4 linked regions of the Homo sapiens genome follow. The protein of the gene in region 1 interacts with the protein of each later gene in a pairwise test. Each region holds a gene or a part of one and is shown in the gene's direction. Other genes may lie near its edges.

Region 1 (7,026 bases):
CCTTGCCTACGACATCACCAAGAGGAGCTCCTTCCTGTCGGTGCCTCACTGGATTGAGGATGTGAGGAAGTATGCGGGCTCCAACATTGTGCAGCTGCTGATCGGTGAGTTGGGGATTCCTCGGGACCACAAATCCCATCACTCTGCCTGTCCATGCCTCCCTCTGCTTTTTAAACACAGTGTAACCCTGAGTTCAGAGGGAGTCCCAGCCAGAGTTTGAGCCATGGTTTTGCAAATCCTGATCCTGCTAATCACTTAGAAAGTTACATTCAAGGCCGGGCACGGTGGCTCACGCCTGTAGTCCCAGCACTTTGGGAGGCTGAGGCGGGCGGATCACAAGGTCAGGAGATCGAGATCATCCTGGCTAACACAGTGAAACCTCGTCTCTACTAAAAAAATAAAAAAAAATTAGCCGGTTGTGGTGGCAGGCGCCTGTAGTCCCAGCTGCTGGGGAGGCTGAGGCAGGAGAATGGCATGAACCTGGGAGGCGGAGCTTGCAGTGAGCTGAGATCACGCCACTGCACTCCAACCTGGGTGACAGAGCAAGATTCGTCTCAAAAAAAAAAAAAAAAAAAAAAAAAAAAGAAAGTTATATTCAAAATTGGAATTAGAGGAAAGAAGAAAGAGAGCTGAAGTTTGCTCTGCTGTTCTTCACATGTGTCAAGATTTAGCTCTTGTACCCCGGCTTCTCCTCATTTGACAGGGGCTGGGGCTAGGCTCAGAAAAGTGCAGTGATTTATCCGGGTCCACATGGCCTGTGAGCATACACATGTAGGCTTTGAGTTTGCTTCTGCTGACCTCAAGTCTGTGGCTTTCTCTGTTGTGCCGCACACAGAGCAGGGACACTTGATGGCTTCCGTGCCTCAGAATCCCACAGAAGTCTTCTTCAAGTGCAGCTGCAGGGCCTCAACCTCCAGAGCATCTGATCCAGGCGGGCTGGGTGGGGCCCATGAATGTGCGTTTCTAACAAATTCCCAAGTGACACCCACCTTGCTGGTCCAAGGATCCCACTTTGAGAACTGCTGCTGTGGAAGGATGCTGTTTACCTTTGTTTTCCTTCTATATAACCTTCCCAGACCTGGACTGGAGAAGCTCTTTAGCTCTTATGTTATCCCTGGGGTCCTCACCCCAACAGGTTGATTCTTTTTTTTGAGACAGAGTCTTACTCAGTCACCCAGGCTGGAGTGCCGTGGCGTGATCTTGGTTCTGCAAGATCTGCAAAACCACTGCAACCTCTGTCTCCCTGGTTCAAGCGATTCTCCTGCTTCAGCCTCCCGAGTAGCTGGGCCAACAGGTTGATTCTTCTGACTCAAATGTACAGACAGGGCCTGGACCTGACTCCAGCCAGGAAGAGGGTGGTGCCTGGTTCCATGTGGCCTGCCTTCCACAGCCTGTTCAGACTAGGACATGGAGTGCTTGGCATGAACAGAGCTTTCCTCACGTAGCCTAACCATTTCCCCACCTTTTCTTGCTGGGGGTGGGGGACGGAGTCTCGCTCTGTCGCCAGGCTGGAGTGCAGTGGCACGATCTTGGCTTACTGCAACCTCCGCCTCCCGGGTTCAAGCAATTCTCCTGCCTCAGCCTCCTGAGTAGCTGGGACTACAGGCACGCACCACCACACCTGGCTAACTTTTGTATTTTTAGTAGAGACTGGGTTTCACCATGTTGGCCAGGATGGTCTCGATCTCCTGACCTCGTGATCCACCCGTCTCGACCTCTAAAAGTGCTGGGATTACAGGTGTGAGCCACCACACCCAGCCACCAATTCCCATTTATCCAGGACATTTCTGAAAAACATTCCAGCCTGGCATGGTGGCTCACACCTGTAATCCTAACACTGAGAGGCTGAGGTGGGTGGATTGCCTGAGTTCAGGAGTTCAAGACCAGCCTGGGCAACATGGTGAAACCCCATCTCTACTAAAAATACAAAAATTAGCCAGGCATGGTGGCACACACCTGTAATCCCAGCTACTGCGGAGGCCAAGGTAGGAGAATCGCTTGAACCTGGGAGGCGGAGATTGTAGTGAGCCGAGATCGTGCCACTGTCCTCCAGCCTATGCGACAGAGTAAGACTCTGTCTTCCAAAAAATAATTAATTAAAAAACATTCTATTATAGAACTTTTTTTTTTTTTTGAGACAGAGTCTCACCCTGTCGCCCAGACTGGAGTGCAGTGGCGCGATCTCGGCTCATGGCAAGCTCTGCCTCCTGGGTTCACACCATTCTCCTGCCTCAGCCTCCCGAGTAGCTGGGACCACAGGCGCCCGCCACCATGCCTGGCTAATTTTTTGTATTTTTAGTAGAGACGGGGTTTCACCATGTTAGCCAGGATGGTCTCGATTTCCTGACCTCGTGATCCACCCGCCTCAGCCTCCCAAAGTGCTGGGATTACAGGCGTGAGCCACCGCGCCCGGCCTATAGAACATTTTATACAGCTATGAAAATAGTATTTTATCTATTTATTTATGCATACTTATATACATACATATATTTTTAGAGATGCAGTCCTGCTATGTTGCCCAGGCTGATCTTGAACTCCTGGCCTCAAGCAATCCTCCTGCCTCAACCTCCAAGTAGTTGGAATTACAGGTGTGAGCCACTATATCTGGCTTAGAATAGTATAATAATGAGCCCCCAGGTACCCATTACCCTGCTTCAGCAATTAGCAACTGAAGTCCAACCTCCTCTCATCTGTACCATGTCACCTCCCCTCCCTCGGATTATTGAGACAAATTCACATCAAACCATTTCACCTGGCAGTATTCCAGCATGAACCTACAAAATATTTAAACACTTAAAAACAGCAATATTATTTTCTCATCTAAAAATACTGACATTTCCTTAATAATATAAAATAGCCAGTCTGTATTCAGATTTATAATTGCCCATAAAATTCATATGTGTTTTATTTTTTCCAGTTTGTTGAGATCAGGATCCAAATAAGTTTCACACTTTGAAACTGGTTGCTACATCAATTAAGGTTACCAAGGAAATTTTAGATCTTTACAGACTTTTTTTTTTTTTTTTTTTTTATGACGGAGTTTCGCTCTTGTTGCCCAGGCTGGAGTACAGTGGCACAATCTCGGCTCACTGCAACCTCCGCTTGCCACTCCTGCCTCAGGCACCCGAGTAGCTGGGATTACAGGCCCCCGCCACCACGCCTAGCTAATTTTTTGTATTTTTTTTAAGTAGAGACGGGGTTTCATCATGTTGGCCAGGCTGGTCTTGAACTTCCAACCTCAGGTGATCCACCCACCTCGGCCTTCCCAAATGCTGGGATTACAAGCATGAGCCACTGCGCTTGGCCCAGACTCTTTTTTTTTTTGTCTTCCTTATAACCACATTACAAAAGTCAACCATGTAGAGACTTTTAAAAAATTATTCTAGAAATTGGGTCAAGGAGCAATTTAACAGATTGTTTGGAATGTAATGAAGTCATCTCATACCATCTAGGAGGATCTGGGTAAATTGAGACGGGGTCTCACTGTGTTGCCCAGGCTGGTCTTGAATTCCTGGGCTCAAGCAGTCTTCCTGCCTTAGCTTCCCAAAGTGTTGGGATTACAGGCGTGAGCCACTGCACCCGGCCTAAAAAAGGTTTTTTAAAGAAAGACAGATGACCATGCCAGGGGTGTCCATTTATAGTGGTGGAAGGGAGTGGCATGGGGCTGTCAGCGTGACCCTCCCAGGTGGGACTGGGCTTGCCCAGCCCCCATGGCCTCATGCTGCCCCGGCTTTCCTCCGCAGGGAACAAGTCAGACCTCAGCGAGCTTCGGGAGGTCTCCTTGGCTGAGGCACAGAGCCTGGCTGAGCACTATGACATCCTGTGTGCCATTGAGACGTCTGCCAAGGACTCGAGCAACGTGGAGGAGGCCTTCCTGAGGGTGGCCACGGAGCTCATCATGCGGCACGGGGGCCCCTTGTTCAGCGAGAAGAGCCCCGACCACATCCAGCTGAACAGCAAGGACATCGGAGAAGGCTGGGGCTGCGGGTGCTGACCAGGGGCCGGGCCGGCAGACTGGGGGTTCCCCACCTCCTTGCTCTCCCCAGCCTGCCAAGCCCAGCCCTCCAGAGCCAGCCCTCCTGGGTACCGGCAACTACAGCAGCCGGGTGAAGCTCTGGAGCTCTGCATCCTGTGGCCTGGCTGCGGGATGGAGGCTCTCCTTGAGGAAGGGGAAGCAGGATACCCTGGCGGGCCACCCTGCCAGCCAGCAGCTGGCCCTCCACCATCTTCACATTCCAAGACTGGCCTGAACCCGCCGGTGTGGGCCACAGTAGGAGGGGCCAGCAGTCCTCCCTGTCCCATGCCTGCTGGCTCTGACCGTTTCCTCTCATGGGTTTGCTTTACCTGTGGCAGCAGGTTGCTGCTTTCCAGGGATGTGTCCAGTGCCCTGGGTTCTTCCCGGTCATCCTGGGGCTCTGCACAGAGCAGCAGAGCTAGAGCCATGAGACCCACAGACTTGGTGCCTGAGCGCAGCTCCAGGGAAGCCCCAGCCCCTTCCAGGCGGGGAACCTGCTTCCTGCCTTCACTGCCCCCGCAGCACTCACAGACATCTCCCTGGGGTCTGGCTCACTGCCTTATCAGGACCTCTGAGTTTTCTGACTTTCTGTGTAGCTTCTCATTTTCATCAGCACAGCATGGGGTCACGGCCCACAGCTAGGTGGGGTCACGGCCCACAGCTAGGTGGGGACTGTCTGCTGGCTCAGGGCCCAGTGTTTTGCCACTCAGGTTGCAAAATTAGCTAATCCTTCAGTGCCAGCACTCAGAAGTCTGGCAGGTGGGGGAATGAGATGAGAAAGTGGACATTTAAGGTCCAAGTAGAAGCTTGCATCCTTGAGGCTCAGGGATGAGAGGGCACCGCAAGGCACCCAGCCTTACCCCACAAGCAGGAATCCTGCCAGCCGAGCGTGGGTCCCAGTCTATGGAATCGAGTCTCCCAGACAAAAAAGGAGAGGCCCTGGCGGTCCTTGGCCTGGCCCATTTTATTCCCTGGACCCTTAACTGCCTCACCCTGAGCTGGGCACCAAGGTTAGAAGGCAAAAGTGGGGTAGGGGGATGTGGGAAGCAGCATTGTCCTCTGGGCATGTGGCTCAGAGGTATCACAGTGACAAAAGAGCCAGGGCTAGGGCTGGAGGGGCCAGGTGATCTTCCTTAGCCAATCCCAGTCCGTCTGTGTCAGCCCAGCTCTGCCTCGCAGCCCCCTCAGCATGGGTGCCCCCAGAAGTAAGCAGCTCTTGGACCCACGAGCAGGGCTGCGTCGGTTTGTGGTCTAGCTCCCAGGGGCAGGCCAGGCATGGCTCAGTGCAGTCCCTGGGCCAGTGAGAGGCCTCCCCCATGCCTCCCTGCCCTCTGCACTAAGCACTTTCCAGGCAGGCCTGGCCATAGGGCAAGAGCAGGCCTTACAGCAGTGCCACGGTGACCCAAGAGGCAGGGTTGGGGCCTGGACAGGGTTTCCTCTGCTGAGACTGAGACAAGCAGGGCTTGATGCTGGTGGTGGAGCCAGCATCTCACCTGCCAGGCTTCCTTTTGGGCAGGGAGGCTACCTGTGGAATGGCTGAGCCTGGTTCTGCAGGGGAGGAAGGCTGCCAGGAGCTGAGGGGCTAGCACCTGCATTGAGGGGAGTCTGGGTGCATCAGATTGGGGGGCGCCAGAGGCGAGGCTGCCTGGCTCCCTTTCTCAGCAGCTTTGCTTGTGGCAGGGGTGAGAGTGGAGCTGAGTGGGGTCTGGGCTCTGCCCCTGCGCCTCCACTGCAGTGCCTGGGCTCCCCTTGCAGGGCAGACAGTGCCTGGCACTGAGGGGTGCCCCCAGACCCCGCTGGGACTGGATGTGCCGTGGGCAGTGCCTTCCTCCAGCCTCACAACCTTTCTGCTGGGGCTGAAGTTTCTGGGGTCACATGGTCAGAAGGGGCTGAGCTGGTCTTTCACTGCAGGCCCACTCTGAAAGAGAAATCCCATGAAGCCTGTCCTTGCAGAGCCCCTCTGTTTTTGGGGGAACAGGGAGCATTCACAGGGTCTTGGGAACAAAGGCCTGGGCCTCCCCGTTTGAATTTCAGCCCCAGTTCCAGGGCAAGTCCCAGCCACCCAAGCATACTTACCAGTACTGCCCACCACCACCCACTGCCCACCTCTAAGAAGCCCGGCTCTCCTACTCTGCTTCCAGGCTGGGGCCTCACAGGTGGGGCTGTTACCTTCCTCAGGGCTTAGGGAGGGAGGGAGGACATGGACAGGGCCTTCCACCCTGGCTCCTTCACAGGGATGGTAGCTGACCGGTGATGGGTTCATTTGTCACCTTGGACTGTGAGCCACTTCCACTTCTCGCCCCCCAGGCAGGAGCACCCTCACTCCAAGGGCTTGGCCTGGAAAGGCAGGCTCACCTGGGACTCAACGTTCCTTCCCCCGCCGCCACTGTGCCCCCCGTCCCTCCACCCCAGAAGCCCTGACCTCATTTGGGCACCTTGCTGTCCTCTGGGCTTCTCCTCTGCCCAGGTCACCCTGTGGCAGGCCTGGGCCCTCAGGATGTTTCAAAGGCTCCACAGCTCCACCGCTCCACCTGGCTTCACTCCAGCACCCTGTCCCTGGAGCACCTCTGTCCTGTCTGGGCCAACCTGGTCTCCCTGCCCCATGCCCTCCCCTGGCTCTTAGCAACCTGCCCTTTTATTCATGCCATTTGGGGTCACAGATGCCTAGCTGGACACAGCTCCCAGAACTGGCTCCACCCTGGGGCCTTGCCCCTAGTACCCCCTGGCAGGAGCAACCCACCCCATGGTCGAGGTTCCCCTACCCCTGGATCCTGGACTGAAGCCATTTCCTACAGAGAAGCGTTCCCACCCCCTCTCAGGCACAAAAGCCGGTGTCCAGGGACTCAAGACCTGTACCTGGGGTTGCAGGGGCTCCTGCCCTGCTGTATCCCACCAGGAGGGGGCCCCACTGCCCTTCCGGCCCTTAAAACTGGGCTGGGAGAGAAGACGGGGAAGTGTGTGAGACAAAACAAAGCCGGCTTGTTTCCTCCCCTTGGCAGGCTAAGCTCTCC
Region 2 (7,185 bases), on another chromosome or scaffold:
TCCTTTTCATTTTGACTGTCAGAACCCACATTTAGTCCTTTTTATTTTAGCTTTAGATTTGCGGTAGTCTCCTAGCTGATATTCCCATCCCCATAGTACCTGCACCAACCCATTTGACATACTACTCAGAAGTCATCTTCCAAAAATAGATTTACAATCAGTGGTTTCCCATTGTCTTCCACAATTGTTATTGTGGAAGAGAGCTTCCTCTCCCTAGCTTTCAAGGCTTTCAACACATCAAGCCTTATTGTTGACTCCTGACATAGCCCTGCATGACCTGCTTCGGTGGCTTTATCTGTGCTGTAACTATAGCATAGTATAGAAATACAGTCCCTGTGGTTTTTGCTAGTCAAAATGTTATATGTCAAGATTCATCATAAAAGCCATCAGAATCTTATTTTTCCTGTTTTATAGTGTGTTTGTAAGTAAAATGTCAATAGATATTATACATGCAAAATCTGTTACATTTAAAATTGTGATGATGCAAATTTTAATCACTAGCACTCTAAACTTTACACAATAACATAGGGGGAAAAAGGACTTCACATTTAATCTCCATTCCTACAGGCTTTTGCTTTCACGTTCACACTGTCTATTTTTGTTTTTATTTTTGTTGTTGTTGTTGTTGTTGTTGTTGTTTTGAGATGGAGTTTCACTCTTGTTGCCCAGGCTGGAGTGCAATGGTGCAATCTCTGCTCACTGCAACCTCCGCCTTCTGGGTTCAAGTGATTCTCCTGCCTCAGCCTCCCGAGTAGCTGGGATTACAGGTGCACACCACCATGCCCAGCAAGTTTTTGTATTTTTAGTAGAGATGGGGTTTCACCATGTTGGCCAGGCTGGTCTTGAACTCCTGACCTCAAGATGATCCACCTGCCTCGGCCTCCCAAAGTGCTGGGATTACAGGCGTGAGCCACTGCGCCTGGCCCACACTGTTTATTTTTTTACTGTTTTTTTAAATTTTTATTTTTTTGAGATGGAGTCTTGCTCTGTTGCCCAGGCTGGAGTGCAGTGGCCTGATCTCAGCTCACCGCAACCTCCGCCTCCCCAGTTCGAGTGATTCTCCCGCCTCAGACTTCCGAGCAGCTGGGACTACAGGCGCCCGCCACCACACCCGCCTAATTTTTTGTATTTTTAGTAGAGACAGGATTGTTAGCCAGGATGGTCTCAGTCTCCTGACCTTGTGATCTGCCCGCCTTGGCCTCCCAAAGTGCTGGGATTACAGGCGTGAGCCACTGCACCCGGCCTACACTGTTTATTTTTGAACATGTCATACATATTACAAAATTCTAAAGTTACAAAAAGGTATAAAATATGAAATAACTTTTCTCCCCTTCCTGTTGTCCCCTCCCCACAGTTCCTTCTTCTTGGAAACAATAGTGTTATCAGTTTCTTGCATGTGTTCATCCAGGGAGAGTTTAACTAGAGACACATGTTTAATTTACGTATGGATTTGGGAATGGTAGGGGTGTGCATTGAAACTCAGTAGTAAGAAACCAAGTTATTCAATTTAAAAAAGGGCAAAAAATATGAATAGAGGCTTCCCCAAAGAAGATATATGAATAGCAAATAAGCACATGAAGAGATGCTCAATTAGTCATTAGGGAAATGTAAATGAAAGTCACAACGAAATATATCACACACCTATTAAAATGACTAAAATTAGGGGCTGGGCGCCCCCGGTGGCTCACGCCTGTAATCCCAGCACTTTGGGAGGCCGAGGCAGGTGGATCACTTGAGGTCAGGAGTTCGAGACCAGCCTGGCCAACATTGCGAAACCCCGTCTCTACTAAAAATACAAAAATTAGCTGGGTGTGGTGGCGTGTGCCTGTAATCCCAGCTACTCGGGTGGCTGAGACAGGAGAATTGCTTGAACTCGGGAGGTGGAGGTTGCAGTGTGCTGGGATCGGGCCACTGCACTCCAACCTGGGCGACAGAGTGAGACTCCATCTCAAAATGAATATATAAATAAATAAATAAAGACTAAAATTAAAAGATTGTCCATATTCACATAGAGGGGAACAATGCACACTGGGGCCTTCCAGAGGGTTGGGTGGGTGGAGGGAGAGGATCAGAAAAAATAACTAATGTATACTGGGCTTAATACCTGAGTGATGAAATAATTTGTACAATGAACCCCTATGACACACCTTTACCTATGTAACAAACCTGCCCATCCTGCACATGTGCCCTTGAACTTAAAAATTTAAAAAAAATTGTCCATATTAAGTGTTGACGAGGTGGAGAACAAACTAGAATTATATGCTCCTGATGTGAATGTAAAATAGTACTACTTTAGAAAGATGGCAGTTTCTAAAAACTTAAACATATACTTGCCGGGTGCAGTGGCTTATGCCTGTAATCCCAGCACTTTGGGAGGTCAAAGTGGGCAGATCACGAGCTTAGGAGTTCAAGACCAGCCTGACCAACATGGTGAAACCCCGTCTCTACTAAAAATACAAAAACTAGTCAGGTGTGATGGCGCGTTGCCTGTAATCCCAGCTACTCAGGAGCCTGAGGCAGGAGAATCTCTTGATCCCAGGAGGCAGAGGTTGCAGTGATCCGAGATCACGCCATTGCACTCCAGCCCGGGCGACAGAGCAAGACTCCATCTCAAACAAACAACAAACAAACAAACACACCTATCGTATAACCCAAATATTTCACTCCTAAGTATTTAAGAGCAAAGGAAGTATATGTCCACATGAAGACTTATACACAAATGCTCATAGTGGCTTTATTTGTAATAACTGAGAACTTGGAACAACTCAAATGTCTATCAGCAGATGAATAGTTTATCAAACTGTGGTATATCAGTAAAATGGAACGAATGTTAAGCAATAAAAAAGGAATGAACTACTGATACATGCAACAACATGAATCCATCTCAAAATCATTTCGTTGAGTGAAAGAAGGCATGCACTGTATTATTTCATTTATATAAAATTCCATGAAAAGCAAACTATAGTGACAGAAAGCAGATCAGTGGTTGCCTGAAAAGTGGGTGGGAACAGTGAAAGGCACAGATAGCAAAAGTTCACGAGGAAACTTTTAGAGGCTTTGATATGCTCATTATGATTTTGGCAATAGTTTCACAAATGTATGTTCATGTCAAAACGCATCAAATTTTACAACCTAAATATGTGTGGGTTATTGTATGTGAATTATTTTTATTATTATTTTATTTTTATTTTTTGAGGCTAGTCTCGCTCTGTCACCAAGCTGGAGTGCAATGGCGCAATCTCGGCTCACTGCAACCTCCGCCTCCCAGCTTCAAGTGATTATTCTCCTGAATCCGAGTAGCTGGAACTACAGGCGCGCGCCACCACGCCCGGCTAAATTTTGTTTTTTAGTAGAGATGGGTTTTCACCATGTTAGCCAGGCTGGTCTCAAACTCCTGACCTCAGGCAATCGGCCAGCTTCAGCCTCCCAAAACGCTGGGATTACAGGCGTGACTACCGCGCCTGGCTGGGTTATTGTATGTCAATTTTTACCTCCATAAAACTGTTAAGGCCTGTAATCCCTGCACTTTGGGACCCTGAGGCAGGCGGATTACCTAAAGTTGGTGAGTTCGAGACCAGCCTGACCAATACGGAGAAACCCTGTGTCTACTAAAAATACAAAAATTAGCTGTGCATGGTGGCGCATGCCTGTAATCCCAACAACACGGGAGGCTGAGGCAGGAGAATCGCTTGAACCCGGGAGGCAGAGGTTGCTGTGAGCCGAGATTGCACCATTGCATTGCAGCCTGGGCAACAAGAGCGAAACTCCGTCTCAAAAAAAACAAAACTAAACTAAAACACTGTTAAGGGCAGTTAAAACCCAGCCCATATTCCCAGGCTGTTTTTTTTGTTTTGTTTTGTTTTTTCTTTAGGGTTGAAAAAAAACTAAATCCCCATTCACCGCACACGGCACTCTTCACTAACCACGAGAAACCCCACCCAACACCATCCACCGGGTCCCTCCCTTGCCCTCCTAATCCCGCCAGCGAGGTGTCTTCTCTCTGCCGCCCGCTAGAGGGCGTGTACAGAGGAGGTCAAAGCTCTTGGCTCGCTAGCTCAGCCCCAACGCCTGCATGAACTTCCGGCTACACGCCATTCCGCTTCCCGAGGAACGCTTGGGCTGTTGTACGGGTTCCCTACGGGACTCTGAAGGCTGAGGATATCCGGCCCGGAGCGTTTGTGCGGCGCGGAGTTAAGCGCCCCGGCAGTAACTTAAGGGAAGTGGACCAGGGTTGCCGCTGCCCAGAGCGGTCCTTTAGTTTCCACTGGAGTGGAGGGAAGAGTGCTGCCATGGCAGCCCCTGCGCAGCCCAAGAAGATCGTGGCCCCTACGGTGTCCCAAATCAATGCGGAGTTCGTGACCCAGGTGAGCTCGGGCGAGTCTGGTGTGTGTGAGTGGGTATGGACGTCGTGGCCCCGAGGCCTGGTGGTGGGGTTTTTTTTCAGGATTTAGGAGTCCGGAGGAGGCATTCGTTTGTTAATTGATTCACACACGTCTTTTTACTGAGTATCAGCTCCGTGCCGGCCACTATGCTAGGTGCTGGGCATACCGTGGTGAAAGAAGCTGCCCTGCCCTGGGGAGTTCATGGCCCAAGGAAGACAGACGCATGAAAATAAAACTACTGTATGAGTTTTGCTGTGTTGGAGTTTGTCTCAGGAGCAATGGATTCAGAGAGGAGGGAACACCCCAGTCTATCTGAGACTGGCAAGTAGGCTTCGCAGCAGAGTGATGCTGGACTGCCTCTTCAAGTAGGAGTAGGCTTTTTCCTGGTCCTTAGAGTGTCCTGAGTTTTTGAGCAGCGATGAGAAACTGACAAGACACCTCCAAATAGACCTATCTAAAAACAGAGTAATTCTGTAGTTTGAGAGCGTTCATTTAGAATCTGTTTACTATCTTGCATTGTGAGCCACAGTTGGCTTTGGATAGGGAACCACAGTCCTGTGGTTGTCAGCATCATTCCTCATTCTTATTATTTATTTGTGAATTGCATAAGAGTGTAAGTAGTTCAATGTAGAAGTTATCATGCCCACCTGCTTCTTTATTCTTTATTCCTTGTCTCAACAGATTTGCCAGGGCAGAAGCCTAGGGAGTGATTTTGAATCCTCCCTTTCCCTTAGTCCCTACATTTCTACATTCTAAATATCTTTTGAATCTATCTGGTGTTCTACATCTCTGTCACCCTAAGCTTGGTTGCCATTGTTTTCTGCCTGGACCAAGGTATCGTAATCTGTTATATTGTCCTTCCTCTTGCTCTGCTCTAGCCCATTCTTCATGTTGCTTTCCGAGTGATTTCATACAAGTGCAAATCTCATCATATCACTTGCCTTCTTAAAATTTCTGCCTTCCGGCCGGGCGCAGGGGCTCACGCCTGTAATCCCAGCACTTTGGGAGGCCGAGGCGGGCGGATCACGAGGTCAGGAGATCGAGACCATCCTGGCTAACACGGTGAAACCCCGTCTCTACTAAAAATAAAAAGAAAAAAAATTAGCCGGGCATGGTGGCAGGTGCCTTTGGTCCCAGCTACTCGGGAGGCTGAGGCAGGAGAATGGCGTGAACCCGGGAGGCGGAGCTTGCAGTGAGCCGAGATCGCGCCACTGCACTCCAGCCTGGGCAACAGTGCGAGACTCCGTCTCAAAAAAAAAAAAAAATCTCTTCCTTCCTTTCCTTCCTTTTCTTCTTTCAAGATAGGGTCTCACTATGTTGGCTGGGCTCCAGTGAGCCTTCCACCTCAGCCTCCCTTGTAGCTAGGACTACAGGGACTACACTAAGGCTGGCTGTCCTTAAAATCTTCAGCCGGGCGCGATGGCTCATGCCTGTAATCCCAGCACTTTGGGAGGCCGTGGCAGGTCGATCACCTGAGGTCGGGAGTTCGAGACCAGCCTGACCAACATGGAGAAACCCTGTCTCTACTAAAAATACAAAAGTAGGCAGGCTTGGTGGTGCATGCCTGTAATCCCAGCTACTCGGGAGGCTGAGGCAGGAGAATTGCTTGAACCCGGGAGGCGGAGGTTGCAATGAGCCAAGATCGCACCATTGCACTCCAGCCTGGGCAACAAGAGCAAAACTCCGTCTAAAAACGAAGCAAAAAAAAAGAAATCTTTAAAGAATTCTAATTACCCTTAGGTTAACGGCTGAAATCCTTCATAGTGTTGTGTGATTTGACCTGTGCTTATATCTTCAGTTTCCTCTTTTTCCTCTTCCTTTCTAACTCTGTGCCTTAGCTGTACAGAACTTCGTTTATTTGAATGTGCCATGCTATCTTTCATCTCCTGGCTTTTCAACATTGTTCCTCTGCTAGGAATCCTCATTTTTTTTCTCCCCACCTTCCTTTATTCATTCTCAGCCTTCTACACTACTTTAGAGAGGCTTTTCCTGACAACTTAAACGAGATTAGAGGTCTCTTTCCCCATATACCTGCATTTTTGCAGTAGAAGTCATTTATTAGTTTACTTCTGTCATGGAACTCACATTTTAGAGGGAAGAACCAGACAGATGAACGGTATAGTTTCATACACTGATAAATGCTATGAGGAAAATGAAACAGGGCTGTGACAGACTGGTTTGAGGTGTATGAAAGACAGTCAGGAAAGTTCTCTCCGAGGTGACATTTGAGCTAACACCTGAATGCAAAGAAGGAGCCAGTTTTGAGAAGAGCAAGGAAATAGCAAGTACACACACCTTAAGGTGTGAATGTAAAGAAGGCCAGGGTGGGCCGGGTGCGGTGGCTTGTGGCTCGCAGTGGGATTACACCTGTAATCCCAGCACTTTGGGAGGCTGAGGTGGACGGATCACCTGAGGTCGGGAGTTCGAGACCAGCCTGGCCAATATGGAGAAACCCTGTCTCTACTAAAAATACAAAATTAGCCGGACGTGGTGGTGCATGCCTGTAATCCCAGCTACTCAGGAGGCTGAGGCAGGAGAATCACTTGAACCCAGGAGGCAGAGGTTGCAGTGAGCTGAGATCACGCCATTGTACTTCAGCCTGGGCAACAAGAGCGAACTCCATCTCAAAAAAAAAAAAAAAAAAAAAAAAAGGCCAGGGTGGCCTTGAAGGCAAAGATTACCTTTCTTTGCACTCTAGAAGAGCCTAAACAGTATCTGGCAAATATTAGACATTAATGTTTGTTCCCATGGCCCAAGATTGCTGAGAACCTTCCTTTCTCACACTACATCTTAATGATCTGGC
Region 3 (6,309 bases), on another chromosome or scaffold:
AAAAAGAGATGGCCTTACTTTATGGCTCTTCCTTTAATCAAAATATAAAATGCCTGGGAAATGTGAGTTGCAGGGAGTCAGAATATTCCAGAAGATGGCTCCTTCCATTCTTCACCTCTTGCCCCGTCTGTGTAAGTGTTTATCAGGAAAGTGCCTCATGAGGCCAACATTCTTCATGATGGGTCACATCTTGTCCATTGATCATTGGATCTGCCATGTTGGAGGATGCAGCCGGTGGGCTGGTTTCACGGTGGAGCTGTGCTGGGTGATCAGGTGAGCCCCAGCCTAAGCCTGCTGCCTGGGACACTCACCAGCTCCTGGAAGACTCTGGCCCTTCCTGGCACACAGGGGGCCATCACTCCTCTGATACCTTCCCACTGCTCGTCAGTTTTGACTTCAGAAATAGCACAGCTATGCCTAATCACAGAACGGTATTTGCCAAGAAGAAAATCACACTGTTTAAAAGGCATGATTTAGACGTGTGTGTGACGGTCTGAGATCTAAAAGGAGACTTATTTATGCAAAGTCAGGGTGGATGTTGAGGATGATAAACACTTGTATTCTGTTGAATCCAGAACTCAAACTGGAGAAAAAAATCAAGATACGAGTGGAACCTGGAATCTTTGAATGGACAAAATGGGAAGCTGGCAAAACCACCCCAACCCTCATGAGCCTGGAAGAGCTGAAAGAGGCAAATTTCAACATTGACACTGATTACAGGTATGCTGTTCTAAAGTTCTCTGCCACTGGGGCTTTTCCAGTTATTGTTAAAGAAAAATTTCATGACACTGTTAAAATGGTAAGAAAGACTTTATTCAAGAGGGACCACTGCAGTGGGGTTTTGCAGCAGGGGAGAGAGGTGGGGCTCAACTCCTAATACAAGGAAAAGAGGGGAGTTATAGCCACAGAGCAGGGTGGGGGTCAGTGGATGGAAAATTCCTGAGAAGGTGGGTCATTCTTGCTAAACTGACCTAAATGGAGACTCTTGCTGAAGGCAGGCCAAGGTGATCAGACATCACCTGGGGGGTGGTAGAGGATAAGGAACTTGATCAGATGTCGAAGGTAGGAGGTTCTTGCTAAACTCACTCTGCAAGAACAGACACAGAAGCCCAAGGGTCAAGACCTCATTGAGAAGAAGGTTCAGAGGAGCTGGACTGGAGTTTAGTCAAGGAGAGAGTCTTTGTCATTCTCCACCCATGTCTGACTCTGCCATCACAGAGCCCTCCTGGTGTTGAGTAAGAATGTGTGCTGGAGATTGACTGTCAGTGCTTTGCCAGTTTTCAGCACAAAACTGGAGCCTGCCTGTTGACCATGAGCCTGCCTTGAGGCAGAGCCATCCTGGAAGAACGTTCTCCTTCCCCAGCTAACTGCAGCTGAGCCTTCCTAATCCCTACGAAAGTGCCAGGGCAGCAGCCTCTCCTTCTCATCCTTCCAGGCCCGCGTTTCCCCTGTCCGCCCTCATGCCGGCCGAGAGCTACCAGGAGTACATGGACAGGTGCACGGCGAGCATGGTGCAAATCGTCAACACCTGTCCACAGGACAGTAAGTGCCTCACCATCCTCAGTATGAACAGCCCCTGGGGCTTGGGGAATTATCTCTGAGATGGAAATTGGCCAATTTTCTGAACCTATGAATGCCCCTACTTCTCCTGCCTGCCCCCGCCCCCATTCTCCAGCAACAAAGTTTTCATCACTGCTGCTGCTGCTGCAGTAACCGGGTGCACAGACACACACTCCCCTGCCGCCCAGGCCCTGGGACCCCCCATCCTGGGACTGAGTGCTGATGGGAGGGGAATGATCTCTGAGATGGAAATTGGCCGATTTTCTGAACCTATGAATGCCCCCACTTCCCCTGCCCGCCCCCCACCATTCTCCAGCAACAAAGTTTTCATCACTGCTGCTGCTGGTGCAGTAACCGGGTGCACAGACACACACTCCCCTGCCGCCCAGGCCCTGGAACCCCCCATCCTGGGACTGAATGCTGATGGGACCCAGGCCAGCAGGGTCACACAATCCACCCATGTCCAAGGGATTTGAGTCAGCTTCCTGGGAAACAAAAGAGACAGAGAGAGAAAGAACAACCAACTTCCAGGTGGCGCCCCCTTCCCTGACCCATCACACGGGTCTCCTAACCCTCCCGTGTTGCTTTGTCCTGGATGAAGCATGCACAGAAGCGCTGACTTCCCACGCCTTCCCCTGAGCTGGCAGGGACAAGCGTGTCTCCTGAGGGAGACCCACTCGGCCTGTGGTCTCCAGGTGTTCTTATCTAAAGCAGGAGTCGTAGCAGGCTCGTGTGACAAAATAACCGGCTGACCTTTCTAAAGTGAATCAGGTCTGGCTTGGGCGTCAGCCACCGCTACATCCCAGTCTGTGGCTGACGGGGCCCAGGCAGCCAGCGACCACAGGGGGTGGCTCAGCTCACTTCCTAGGCCTCCCTGAGGCTGGTGGGCAGCTGCTGCGTGCAGAGGAATCCATGAGCGAGGGTGGGACGCAGGCATCACTGAGCGGTTACCAGCCACACTACTTCTAGCCCGGGGGTCTCGCCAGGCTTCGGGGCACTCTGAGATAGCTCTGCCCCCCACCACTTTGGGGACCCCAGTCTAATAAAAGGTGCTCTCTGGGGCTGCTTTGACCTGGAGGTGTTCTTGTTTTCCACAGCGGGTGTCATCCTAATTGTGAGTCACGGCTCCACTCTGGACTCCTGCACGCGGCCACTGCTCGGGCTGCCGCCCCGGGAATGTGGGGATTTTGCCCAACTCGTGAGAAAGGTACGCGCCCACTCTTGGCTCTTTGGGCCACAAAATCAAGCATCCCGAAGACACAGGTTTATCTCATCCACTTCTCGGAATGAAAACAAGTGTCCGGCTGACCCAGGGCCACCAGGATCCACGTGCCCCCGGAGACTGTGCCCACCGGCTCTTATGCGAAGGGTGACTTCGGGCTGGGGCTGGTGGATAGGTCAGTCAACCTCATCATCATTGGCCACTTGCCAACTTTTTACCAGTCAGCTCATGCCATGACCCCTTGCAGCTCTCGTAGAAAAACAGACGGTCCAGGAAGGAGTAAGCAGTTTAGATGAGGAGGGAAGAAACGACTGTGGGACTCGATTCTGGCCTCTTCTGGGGACCTGGGGCAGGGCGGCTGATGGATGAAAAGGAGCCCCTTGATCCTCTTGCCCTTGGAGTCACCCAGCATGGAAGAAGCTTGAGCTGGTTGTAGCTGCCAGAGTGCTCAGGCTCTGGCAAGGGCCTTGTGAATGACAAACAGAGGATAACGCACACGTGACATCTTGGACAACCTTGATTATCACTCAGCAAAGCCAGAGGGTGATGTCCAGTCCATGGGTGAATTGAGGCAGGCAAACTCAGGAGTGCAGATCCCACCCCAGTCCCAGCCCTTCCCTGCAGATCTACTCAAGGCTGGACTCACCACAGTCCTGACCTTTTTATGAAATTCATCAGTCCACTGGTCAGTGCCCAGGCAGCACGTGCAGCATAGACAATGCCTGTCATCGGAGGTGCTTGAGGCCCTGACCTGGTTTCTTCACATAGCACTGCCACAGGACCACACTGGCCACAGCTTGTTTGCCATAAGTTGTGGGCAGCAGTGGGGGTTGCTGAGTCCCCCCAAGAGGTCAGGGGCTTCAGAGGAGCCCAACTCCCGGGCCCAGCCCAGTGACACCAGCCAGGTGCCTGCAGGAGGGCTTAGCTCTCTAGCTACGCCTGCCTCAGCAGCCAGATGAGAGGTTACGCACATGAAGAGCATGCCTGCCGTGGGTCATTGTCACTCAGCAATTAGGCATCAGACACCCGAATCTCCCTTTCTTGCTCCATTTTCCTCTGCACCTGAGTAGAAACATGCTTCCCCTGCAAAATGTCTCCAGGGTGGTGTGTCCCAATTATGATCCAGACATTTCCGAGCGCCCTGGATTCTTGAGCCACCAGGTGAGCATTGTCCAAATAGGGCAGCTCAACCCCCCTGGGCCACACTGGTAGAGGTCTGCATGGATTTTCCTGGGGACTGTCCGGGGCAGCCCCGGCACCACCTGCTCCCAAAATGTTGCTCTTGCTTCTGCAAATGGGTCTCCCACACATGCGCTCTGATGCATTCCTCCTGTCCCTGCCCCGCTTCCCACAGTCCCATATACACATACCAAGCCTCCAGCCCCAGGCGCTCCTGGGGGCCCACGTAACCAAGGGTGGCAGCACTGCACACACCAGCTGCTGACAGTTCCTCAAACCCATGAGCCTTTGTGGCCAAAGCTCCACCCACTCCTTGGACCCTTCACCCCCTTCCATAGATGCCAATCTTGAACTTCCAAACTCCTGGACTTTCTTATGCTGGTCACGTGGCGTTCACCCTGCCCCTACCCCAAAATAAGCTGGACTTGCTCATGCATATCAGAAAATACAAAGGGGGGGCTCTACCAAATGATGGGCCCCCAAATCAGGGCAGCTGGAAAGGGAGCACTCAGGACCCTCCCCGACCAGCCCATCACCGCCCCTCGCCCACAGCCTCTGCAAGCGTGAGGAAAGAATCACCCTAGGGTCAACACCAGCCTCACTCAGACCCCCCTGCCAGTTGGCATTTTTGTAAATTTCATCTGCCTGAGGAATTTCTAGACATTAGAAAGAGGAAGGAAAGAAAGAAAAGAAAAGACAAAAACAAAAAAGGCTTCACCACAAAGCTCTGTTCTCACACATCCATTTCACAGATGAAGGGATGGAGGTCTAAAGGTTCACTTTGTGCTTTTCTTTTGGGTCTGAAAACTCAATGTCTGTGTCTTTTTGTGATGCTGAATATGAGAATATGAGTCACTCCTTAAGTGGTGGATGGCAATCTCCACCTCAGCCTGCAGACCTTTGTGGTGGGGGCTGTTCTACTCATTGTAGGATGTACCACCTTGTAGGACCTCTACCTGCTAGGTGTCGGCAGCACCTCCATCCTCAGTTGTGACAATCAGAAATGTCTCCGGAATTACCCAGTGTCCCCTGGCTAGGGGACATCCCCCACGGGGCACCGCCAGGGCAGATGTTGGTGCCATTCAATGGTGGCAGTGCCAGCCTGGGCAGTCGCAGACCCTCCAAAGTAGAGGTGTGCCTGACAGTTGGCTTTGGAGCTAGTCTGAAATTGATGGACTTGCTATAAGATATTAACAAGTGATTTAAAACTCTGTTCCAGATCCCTTCCCTGGGCATGTGCTTCTGTGAAGAAAATAAAGAGGAAGGAAAATGGGAGTTGGTGAACCCACCGGTGAAGACCCTGACCCACGGGGCGAACGCAGCATTTAACTGGAGGAACTGGATCTCAGGCAACTGAGAGCCACGGTGATGTTGTCATAACCTCAGAGTGGAGAGGCAGAAACCATGTGCAGAGGCTGGGAGATGCTGCTGTTTCCAGAGGCGTCTTAGTCTCACCCAATGTGATTTGTAGAAGCACGAGACGCACTTTTATATCCCGGAATATTTCCCTCCGGCTTTCGCCTTTGTAACTCCCATCTGTGGACCCATCGTCCACCAGCCCAGCTGCGGGGAGCACAGGGCAGGTGGCTGGGTGAGGATGCCGCCCTGCAGCATGTACACCGAGTGTCTGCAGCTGGGGACACAACTGCCCGGGACTCTAACTTCCAGGAATTAAAGACTCACCACACACGAAGGATCTAACCACTTCATTTTCCATGGTCTAATCATTAAATTCCCAATCGTTTTTTCTTTTTCTGGGTCCATCACTCTTTAGCCATATCCACATGGGCTAAAACAGGTGTAATAGTCAATAAAATGGTCCCAGAAAACCATCGACCAGGTCAAAACTGGGTTGCTGCTCCGTGCTGTCAACATTCATGTTACTATGTCTCTGTGGTTGCTGTAACCAATGACCACAAACCTGGGGGTCATGGAAAGAACACAAACTTTACACACACACACACACACACACACACACAGGCACATACACACATGCACATATGCATACAAAGACAGGCACACACGAGCATGCACACACACAAACACGTGCACATACACATGCGCACACACATGCACACGCACATGCACACACACGCAGGTACACAAGCATGCAAACACACATACACATACAAACGCGTGCATGCATACATGCACACATGAGCACACAAACACATGCACACACTTGCACACATGCACACAAAGGCATACACATGCAATGCACACACACAAACACACATGCACACACAGGCACACACACGCTCACATGCACACACACACACGCTGACTCTCCTACGGTTCTGGAGGTTGGCATTTTCTCAGCAGGCTATGTTTCTTCTGGAGCCTCCAGG
Region 4 (7,026 bases), on another chromosome or scaffold:
CCCTGACACAGGTTCCTGGTGGAATACCTCAAATGTCGACTTCCTGAGGTGGTTGCTATTTTGTTCTGTTTTGATTTTAAACAGAAAGCAAGGGCGGACCATGGTTTGATTCCAGATGTGAAGTTAGAAAAAACAGTCCCCCGGCTGCACCGTCCGTCCCTCCAGCATTTCAGGGAGCAGTTTTTGGTTCCAGGGAGGCCCGTGATCCTGAAAGGCGTGGCTGACCACTGGCCGTGCATGCAGAAGTGGAGGTGGGTGGTCGCTGAGGGAGGTGAGGTCCCTTTTCCCATTTTAGCGTTCCCCAGGGCTCCCTGAATTCCTCCCGACCATCCCCAGGGAAATGCAACCTTGTAGATGCTTCACTAGCAGCCCTTGACTGATTGCCAAGGGGTTAAAAAAGAGTGAAAAGTAAGGTGCTCTGAATTTATGCCGCAGGTTATGGGATTCTTACCTTCTACCTTGCTCGCCTTAAGCGGTTTTTTAATGAGTCCCTAAGTGGCAGTCCTAGAATGTTTCTGTTATGCAATTTTACAGGATCCTAGCAATTTCAGACCATCTCAGGGCCCTGAAGCTAAGAGCAGAAATAACCCAAGAGACAGCCCCTCTCTCTCTGAGGGATTCTGTGGTCTCTTGTGTTTGTTTCTAGTCCTTTCTCAGAATCATGATGGGGAGATCAGATCAGGCAGCTGGAGCGTGGCTGTCATGCCGCGGCTCTGCATGAGTTTGGAAATAAGGAGGCATCTCTCCAGGAAGGTAGATGGAGTCCGCCTGTTTTGTGGTTTCGCGGAGGGAATGGTACCCGCTGACACATGTGGAGGAATTCTCATTGCAGGAGCTCTCCTCACAGCAAGGCTTCATTAAGCATTTTACTACGTACCTGGCACTAGGACAGGTGTTGTCATCACCCCCATTCTGTAAATGGGGATCAAGGACTCGGGTTCAGTAACCTGCCTCAGATCCCCTGGCCTGTAACTGATGAGGCCTGGAATCAGTCCCAGGCTAGAGGGCAGAGTCCAGGAGACTGCCACCTGCCACGCTGTCCGCTATTTGTTCAAAGGTTTCTCAGCTTAGTGACAAAATGAGCAAAGAAAGAAGTGAGGAGGCTGTTGGCAAGCAGGGAACTAGAGCAGCCCAGCCAACCAGACTTACCGGCCCTGTCTGCAAAGCTGCACAGCACTGTGTATGAGCCACACAGCCTTGAGCAGGGAGCCCCACCTCTCCATGCCGGTTCCTCATCAGTGAAGCTGGGGATGACAGTCCTTGTCTCTGCACGTGAGGTTTTCCGAGGATGAAAGGGGACCACATGCAAAGCACACTTAGTACTATGCCCAACAGATATTAGCAGTGACGATGCCAATGTGTGTCTTTCTGCTAGTTTGGAGTATATCCAGGAGATCGCTGGCTGCCGAACTGTCCCAGTGGAAGTTGGTTCGAGGTACACAGATGAGGAATGGTCCCAGACCCTCATGACGGTCAACGAGTTCATCAGCAAATACATCGTGAATGAGGTACATCATGGGGACTGCTTTCCCCTAGTACTTGCAAGGCAGAGAGCATAGTACATTTAGGCAAATAACCCCCCATGTGTTGTAATGGGAGGTTTTGGAGGAGCCAGGCTGTAAGTCTGTGGTCGGAGGGACGACCGCAGCGAGGAAGGCAGGCTGCTTAGCCAGCAGACATGAGGGATTCATGTCAGGTCCTTTTTAATGGGCAGGGGAGTATAATTCAGTGGGTTTTAGCCTGTTCCAAAAGTTGGACAGCTAAGTCTAGAGTATGTGTATTTAAATTTTTAATAGCAGCCAGGCATGGTGGCTCACACCTGTAATCCCAGCACTTTGGGAGGCTGAGGCAGGCGGATCACTTGAAACCAGGAGTTCAAGACCAGCCTGGGAAACATAGTGAAACCCTGTCTCTATAAAAAATATAAAAATTAGCTGGGTATAGTGGTACGTGCCTGTAATCCCAGCTACTCAAGAGGCTGAGGTGGGGCAAATTGCTTGAGCCCAGGAGGCAGAGGTTGCAGTGAGCCAAGATCAGGCCACTGCATTCCAGCTTGGACAATAGAACCAGGCCCTGTCAAAATTACGACAGGACAGGATAGGACAATTTATTTTTCCCAAAAGTTAGATCACTTATACTTTCACCAGCAATTAACACAAGTGTCCATTTTCTTACATCTTTGCCTGCACTGTTTGTTGCCATTTTATGAAAATGTTTGCCAATCAGATGGATGAGATCAGTGCTTTACAAACTGGGTACCCCGGTGCTGGAGAGGTTCTTTGAAGCTGCCCCAGGGCCTCTAAGGGTTGGAGAGGACCACTCAGGATGGAGTGGAAGGGTGACGGGTGCTGCAGCTGGGGCCAGCTGGACAGCAGCAGCAGGAGGGCATCTGTCATGACTAACTGGGCTTTCTGTGTTGCCTCTGGTTTTCCCCGGTGGATTAGCCAAGGGACGTCGGGTACCTTGCTCAGCACCAGCTCTTTGACCAGGTAAGTCTGAGGCCACGCACCTCTGCCCCTCACCGTCTCACCTTCCCCTCTCCTCCCCTCCTGGGCTCAGTGCGGCTGGAGCAGTGAGCGTGAGTAGGAGGGAGGCAGCAGGTGAGGCTAGGAAGGTGACAGGACGTGGGTGATGAGGAGCCATTTTCCTAAAGTGACAGGAAACACTGGGGGGTCGCCAGTGCCCCGAGGATTGTAGGGGCTGCTATTCAGAGATGAAGGGAGCAGCTGTCGGAGCGGGTGGCTGGCTGGGCTATTGCTGTGGTGCAAGGAGAGGTGATGCTGGCAGGTGGAGCAGTTCAAGACCGGTGTGAACCACCGAGCCCTGGACGTGGGTGGATGTGTGGGGGAGGGAGGGAAGATCGGGGAAGATGCCCAGATTCAGGACCCCAAAACACTAAATAGATGGAGCTGGGGCGCCCAGGAGGGACCTGGCTGGTGTGGTGTCTGCCAGGAGTGCCCAGGAAGGCAGCCCTTGGCAGGATTCAAGGATAGGGCCAGGTGCGTGTCCCGAACGTGGAAGACTCGAGTCAGTCAGGGTCAGGGCTACAGCCAGGGGTGGGCTGGGGCCGCACCTCTGTAGCCTTTGCAGTGGGGCCCTGGGATGCTGATCAGCTGCTGTATCTACTGCTGAAGCCAGGACTGCTTCTCTGTCTCGATGGGGGACCCAGGGCCAGTAGGGGCTGTGCCAGGAGCCTTCATGCCGACATTAAAGGACGCTGGCGGTTTCTCTTCCCCAGGCCTCCCTATTAGGACCTGTGCATCCTGCGTCCTGTCCATGTCACTTGCTAAGTGAAGGAAAGGGGGATTCTAATTGATCAGGTCCCTACTGTGTGATCCCGAGACCCACCTTTCTCCTGACCCTGGTCATCCTGGGGGCATGGCCTCAGTGTGGGCTGGGGACCCTGGAAGCCATGGTTAACCTTGGCTCCCTGTCCTGGAGCAGCTGTTTCATACTTTGTAGGACAGGAGGAGTTATATTTAGGAGTAGAAGGCCAAGTTCACAGTGACTTTCAAGATGAGCCAGGACTTGAAAGATGTTTCGGGTAATGGAGGGCCGCCTGGGTGTTTACCTTGGGTCCCAGAGCTGAGTGTCTACCATGCTGTGGAGAGGACCCTGGAGAAGTCCCAGCAGCCCATGCCCAGGTGTTATCATGCCGTGTGGCAAGGACAGTGTTCTAGAACCTTCTCTACCTACAGGACGCTCAGGGACTCCTACCAAATTCTTGTCCCAGAACCTCTTATTGACTTTTCTCCCAGGGACCCCGTGTTCTAGAAGATTTTGGCCATCAGTTTAAGCCTGCCTCAGTTATTAGTCACATCTCGGGAGCACTGATTCCCTTCGGGTCTCTGCATCCTCGGCCAGTGATTCTGATGACATGATCTGGTCAGCCAATCACCTTTCAGAAATCCTGATGATGTCATCAGGGACCAATCATAGTTTCTGCTCAGATTCCACAGGGCCAGTTCTGGTCAAAAGCAGCAGCGTCGGGTTACCTTTGGGAGGAACCCCTCACAGCCCTGGGAGGGACCTCAGCTTGCGAACTTGTACTTCAGTCCTAAGCAGCAGGCGCGGCTGCGTTTCTGCACAGCTGATTTGAGACAGGTTCTTAAAGGTCTGAATAGCAGTGTCTGGGACCAAGCTCCCTGCAGGGAGAACATTCCAGCTTTTCCTGGTACACACTGGTTTCTGAGCCAGCAGCCTGAAGTTACCGTCACTGCTCCCGAAGGAATGGTAGTGTCCACCTGCAGGTGCCTTCAGGCTGCGGAGCAGTGACTCTTAAAAAGCCCTGTGTCCCTCTGGCAACCCTGTTTTCATGCCTCTCAAGCTTGAAAAATGCCGCCAGGTCCATCCAGGGTCCCGTGAAGAACCCTGGGGTTCTCGGTGGCCTGGGGGGTGTGGGCTGGTGGCCTGCTCTGGTGGGTTCAACCCCGGAGGTAACTGAGGTGCCTGCTAAGGGTCTGGACAGGAAGTGGACTTAGAGTGAGTGTGTTTTCACTCTGAGACCCTGGCTTTGTGTAAAGGAGGCCAGGGCCATGTGCAGTGGCTCATACCTGTAGTCCCAGCACTTTGGGAGACCAAGCAGGACCAGCCTGGACAACATAGCAAGACCCCATCTCTACAAAAATAAAATTAGCCAGGCACGGTGGCATGCTCCTGTGGTCCCAGCAATTTGGGAGGCTGAGGCAGGAGGATCGCTTAAGCTCTGCAGGTTGAGGCTACAGTGAGCCATGATGGTACCACTGCACTCCGGACTGGGTGACAGAACAAGACTGTCTTTGAAAAAAAAAATTACAATAAATAAATAAAGGAGGCCAGGCCACTGCGGCCCTGCCCCACCGTGAACATCCAAGATCGCTTGATGTGTGGCATATAACTCTGTCAGAGGCCATGGGGAGCCGCGCCACCCTTACTGCATCATATAAAGCTCAGAGCACAGACCCAGGCCCACACCTGCCTTTCTCGTCAGGCAGTTTCTCTTCTCTGCCCAGCCTGTTTCTGCCAGGTATGGCAACAAATCCTCTGTGCCTACCCTGGCTTTTAAAACTAGGACGGCAAGGGCCGGGTGCGGTGGCTCACGCCTGTAATCCCAGTACTTTGGGAGGCCGAGGCGGGTGGATCAATTAAGTCTAGGATTTTGAGAGCAGCCTATGCAACATGGCGAAACCCTGTCTCTACAAAAACAAAAATTAAAAAAAAATTAGCCGGGTGTGGTGCATGCTTGTAGTCCCAGCTAGTAAGGAGGCTGAGGTGGGGGGATCACTTGAGCCCAGGAGGCAGAGGCTGCAGTGAGCTGAGATCACGCCACTGCACTCCAGCCTGAGAAACAGAGCCAGACCCTGTCTCAAACACACACACACATAATGGATATAGGTATGTGTTTCTGACTCTTCGTTGGCCTCCGGGCTGCGGTGTCCCCAGCCGGATCCCCACATCTCATGTCTGCTCTGCCGCCCACAGATCCCGGAGTTGAAGCAGGACATCAGCATCCCCGACTACTGCAGCCTGGGCGATGGGGAGGAGGAGGAAATCACCATCAATGCCTGGTTTGGTCCCCAGGGAACCATCTCCCCACTACATCAGGATCCCCAGCAAAACTTCCTAGTGCAGGTTGGAGCTGCAGCTGGAATAGTGGCCTTCTAACTCCTCCTGGCCCAGACACCTGGCCGGCCACATTCTCTGCCTTTAAACACCGGGCTCTTAAAAAGAAACAAGAAGCACTGAAGGGGATGAGGACAAAAATATAAAGCAAACCCACAAACGGCCCCAGGCCCAGGAAGGCCTCTGCAGTCGGTGCTTCCAGAAGCGGCTCCTCCTGCATGTGCTCCTCCCAAGATCCCTCACAGGGGAGCCCTCGGGAGAGGGAGCGAGTGCTGGTGTGGGTGCCCGGTGCCTCTGCCCCTCCCCGCCTGCTACCCATGCGATCCAGACCAGCTTCCAAATAGGAGGTGGCAGGTTGGGGGAGGAGTTTTCTCAGTCACTGGGAGGTTTTTTTCCTGAGGCCCAGTCAGAGGAGCAGATGGATTTGCTGCAAGGGGAGGCACCTCTGTCTACTGCTGTAAGACCACCCTGGTTTTCGCAGGCAAAGAGAGGTTTAGTAAAGGAGAACGTTCTCCTACCCCAGCAGACCAGTCCAGAGAGGCAGCCCAGGAGTGGGCTAAGAGCTGGGCTTCGGGAGCCAGCGTGCCTGGCGCAGACAGCAGCCCTGCCACACCTCAGCTGTGTGAGCTTGGGCAGCTCATTTAATCTCTCTGTGCTTCAGTTTCCTCACCTGCAAAATGAGAGTGAAGATAAACCACCTCAGAGAGGATTAAACCAGTTAACACACATAAAGCACTTAAGCAGTGCCTGGCACAGACAAGCGCCTAATAATTGTGGGCTCCAAAAATGAAGTTATTTTTCAAAATGTATTTGGAAGAAAAACATACCTTAGGCCAAGTTTGGTAGTTCACACCTATAATCCCAGCACTTTGGGAGACCGAGTCAGGAGGATCACTTGAGGCCAGGAGTTCAAGACCAGCCTGGGCAACATATTAAAACCTAATCTCTACCAAAAATAAAAATACAAAAATCAGCTGGGTGTGGTGGGGCATACCTGTAGTCCCAACTACTGGGGAGGCTGGGGCAGGAGGATCTCTGGAGGCCAGGAGGTCGAGACTGCAGTGAGCCATGATCGTACCACTGCACTCCAGCCTGGATGACCGAGTGAGACCCTGTCTCTAAAAAATAAAAAAGAAAGAAAAACATACACGTGGAACCATAAGCATGTGTGTGGTGGGGAAGGGCAGGCTGGGCCCAGGGAGCAGCATGTGGAAGGGCACAGAGGCCAGAGTGGGCTTGGGGCAGCAGTGGAGTGAGGCCACCAGCTGACTGTCAGGGTCTCTCTCCCCAGGTGATGGGGAGGAAGTACATCCGGCTGTATTCCCCGCAGGAGTCAGGGGCTCTGTACCCTCATGACACGCACCTTCTCCATAACACGAGCCAGGTGGGCACTGGGGGTCTGGGGTGACGTTGCAGGTTCTCCCC

What was found.
Region 2: the proteins of ISY1-RAB43 (region 1) and AQR interact in binary tests that used the Homo sapiens proteins (3 or more experiments, as listed by UniProt).
Region 3: the proteins of ISY1-RAB43 (region 1) and UBASH3A interact in binary tests that used the Homo sapiens proteins (3 or more experiments, as listed by UniProt).
Region 4: the proteins of ISY1-RAB43 (region 1) and KDM8 interact in binary tests that used the Homo sapiens proteins (3 or more experiments, as listed by UniProt).

The regions. Positions count from the first base shown.
Region 1 is NC_000003.12:129,088,064-129,095,089, reverse strand, and holds part of ISY1-RAB43 (ISY1-RAB43 protein), read left to right. Parts: coding exon 1-65; coding exon of another isoform or gene 66-104; intron 105-2,496; coding exon of another isoform or gene 2,497-2,576; exon of another isoform or gene 2,577-2,590; intron 2,591-3,743; coding exon of another isoform or gene 3,744-3,994; 3' UTR 3,995-7,026. Other genes in the region: RAB43 (ras-related protein Rab-43), read left to right, coding at 1-104, 3,744-3,994. UniProt on the Homo sapiens protein: Component of the spliceosome C complex required for the selective processing of microRNAs during embryonic stem cell differentiation. Required for the biogenesis of all miRNAs from the pri-miR-17-92 primary transcript except miR-92a.
Region 2 is NC_000015.10:34,966,718-34,973,902, reverse strand, and holds the start of AQR (RNA helicase aquarius), read left to right. Parts: upstream 1-4,160; 5' UTR 4,161-4,289; coding exon 4,290-4,364; intron 4,365-7,185.
Region 3 is NC_000021.9:42,441,877-42,448,185, forward strand, and holds the end of UBASH3A (ubiquitin-associated and SH3 domain-containing protein A), read left to right. Parts: intron 1-575; coding exon 576-720; intron 721-1,277; coding exon of another isoform or gene 1,278-1,326; exon of another isoform or gene 1,327-1,429; intron 1,430-1,435; coding exon 1,436-1,542; intron 1,543-2,657; coding exon 2,658-2,767; coding exon of another isoform or gene 2,768-2,957; intron 2,958-5,180; coding exon 5,181-5,318; 3' UTR 5,319-5,808; downstream 5,809-6,309. UniProt on the Homo sapiens protein: Interferes with CBL-mediated down-regulation and degradation of receptor-type tyrosine kinases. Promotes accumulation of activated target receptors, such as T-cell receptors, EGFR and PDGFRB, on the cell surface.
Region 4 is NC_000016.10:27,213,501-27,220,526, forward strand, and holds part of KDM8 (bifunctional peptidase and arginyl-hydroxylase JMJD5), read left to right. Parts: intron 1-84; coding exon 85-251; intron 252-1,102; exon of another isoform or gene 1,103-1,272; intron 1,273-1,375; coding exon 1,376-1,508; intron 1,509-2,444; coding exon 2,445-2,489; intron 2,490-5,460; coding exon 5,461-5,610; intron 5,611-6,892; coding exon 6,893-6,985; intron 6,986-7,026. UniProt on the Homo sapiens protein: Bifunctional enzyme that acts both as an endopeptidase and 2-oxoglutarate-dependent monooxygenase.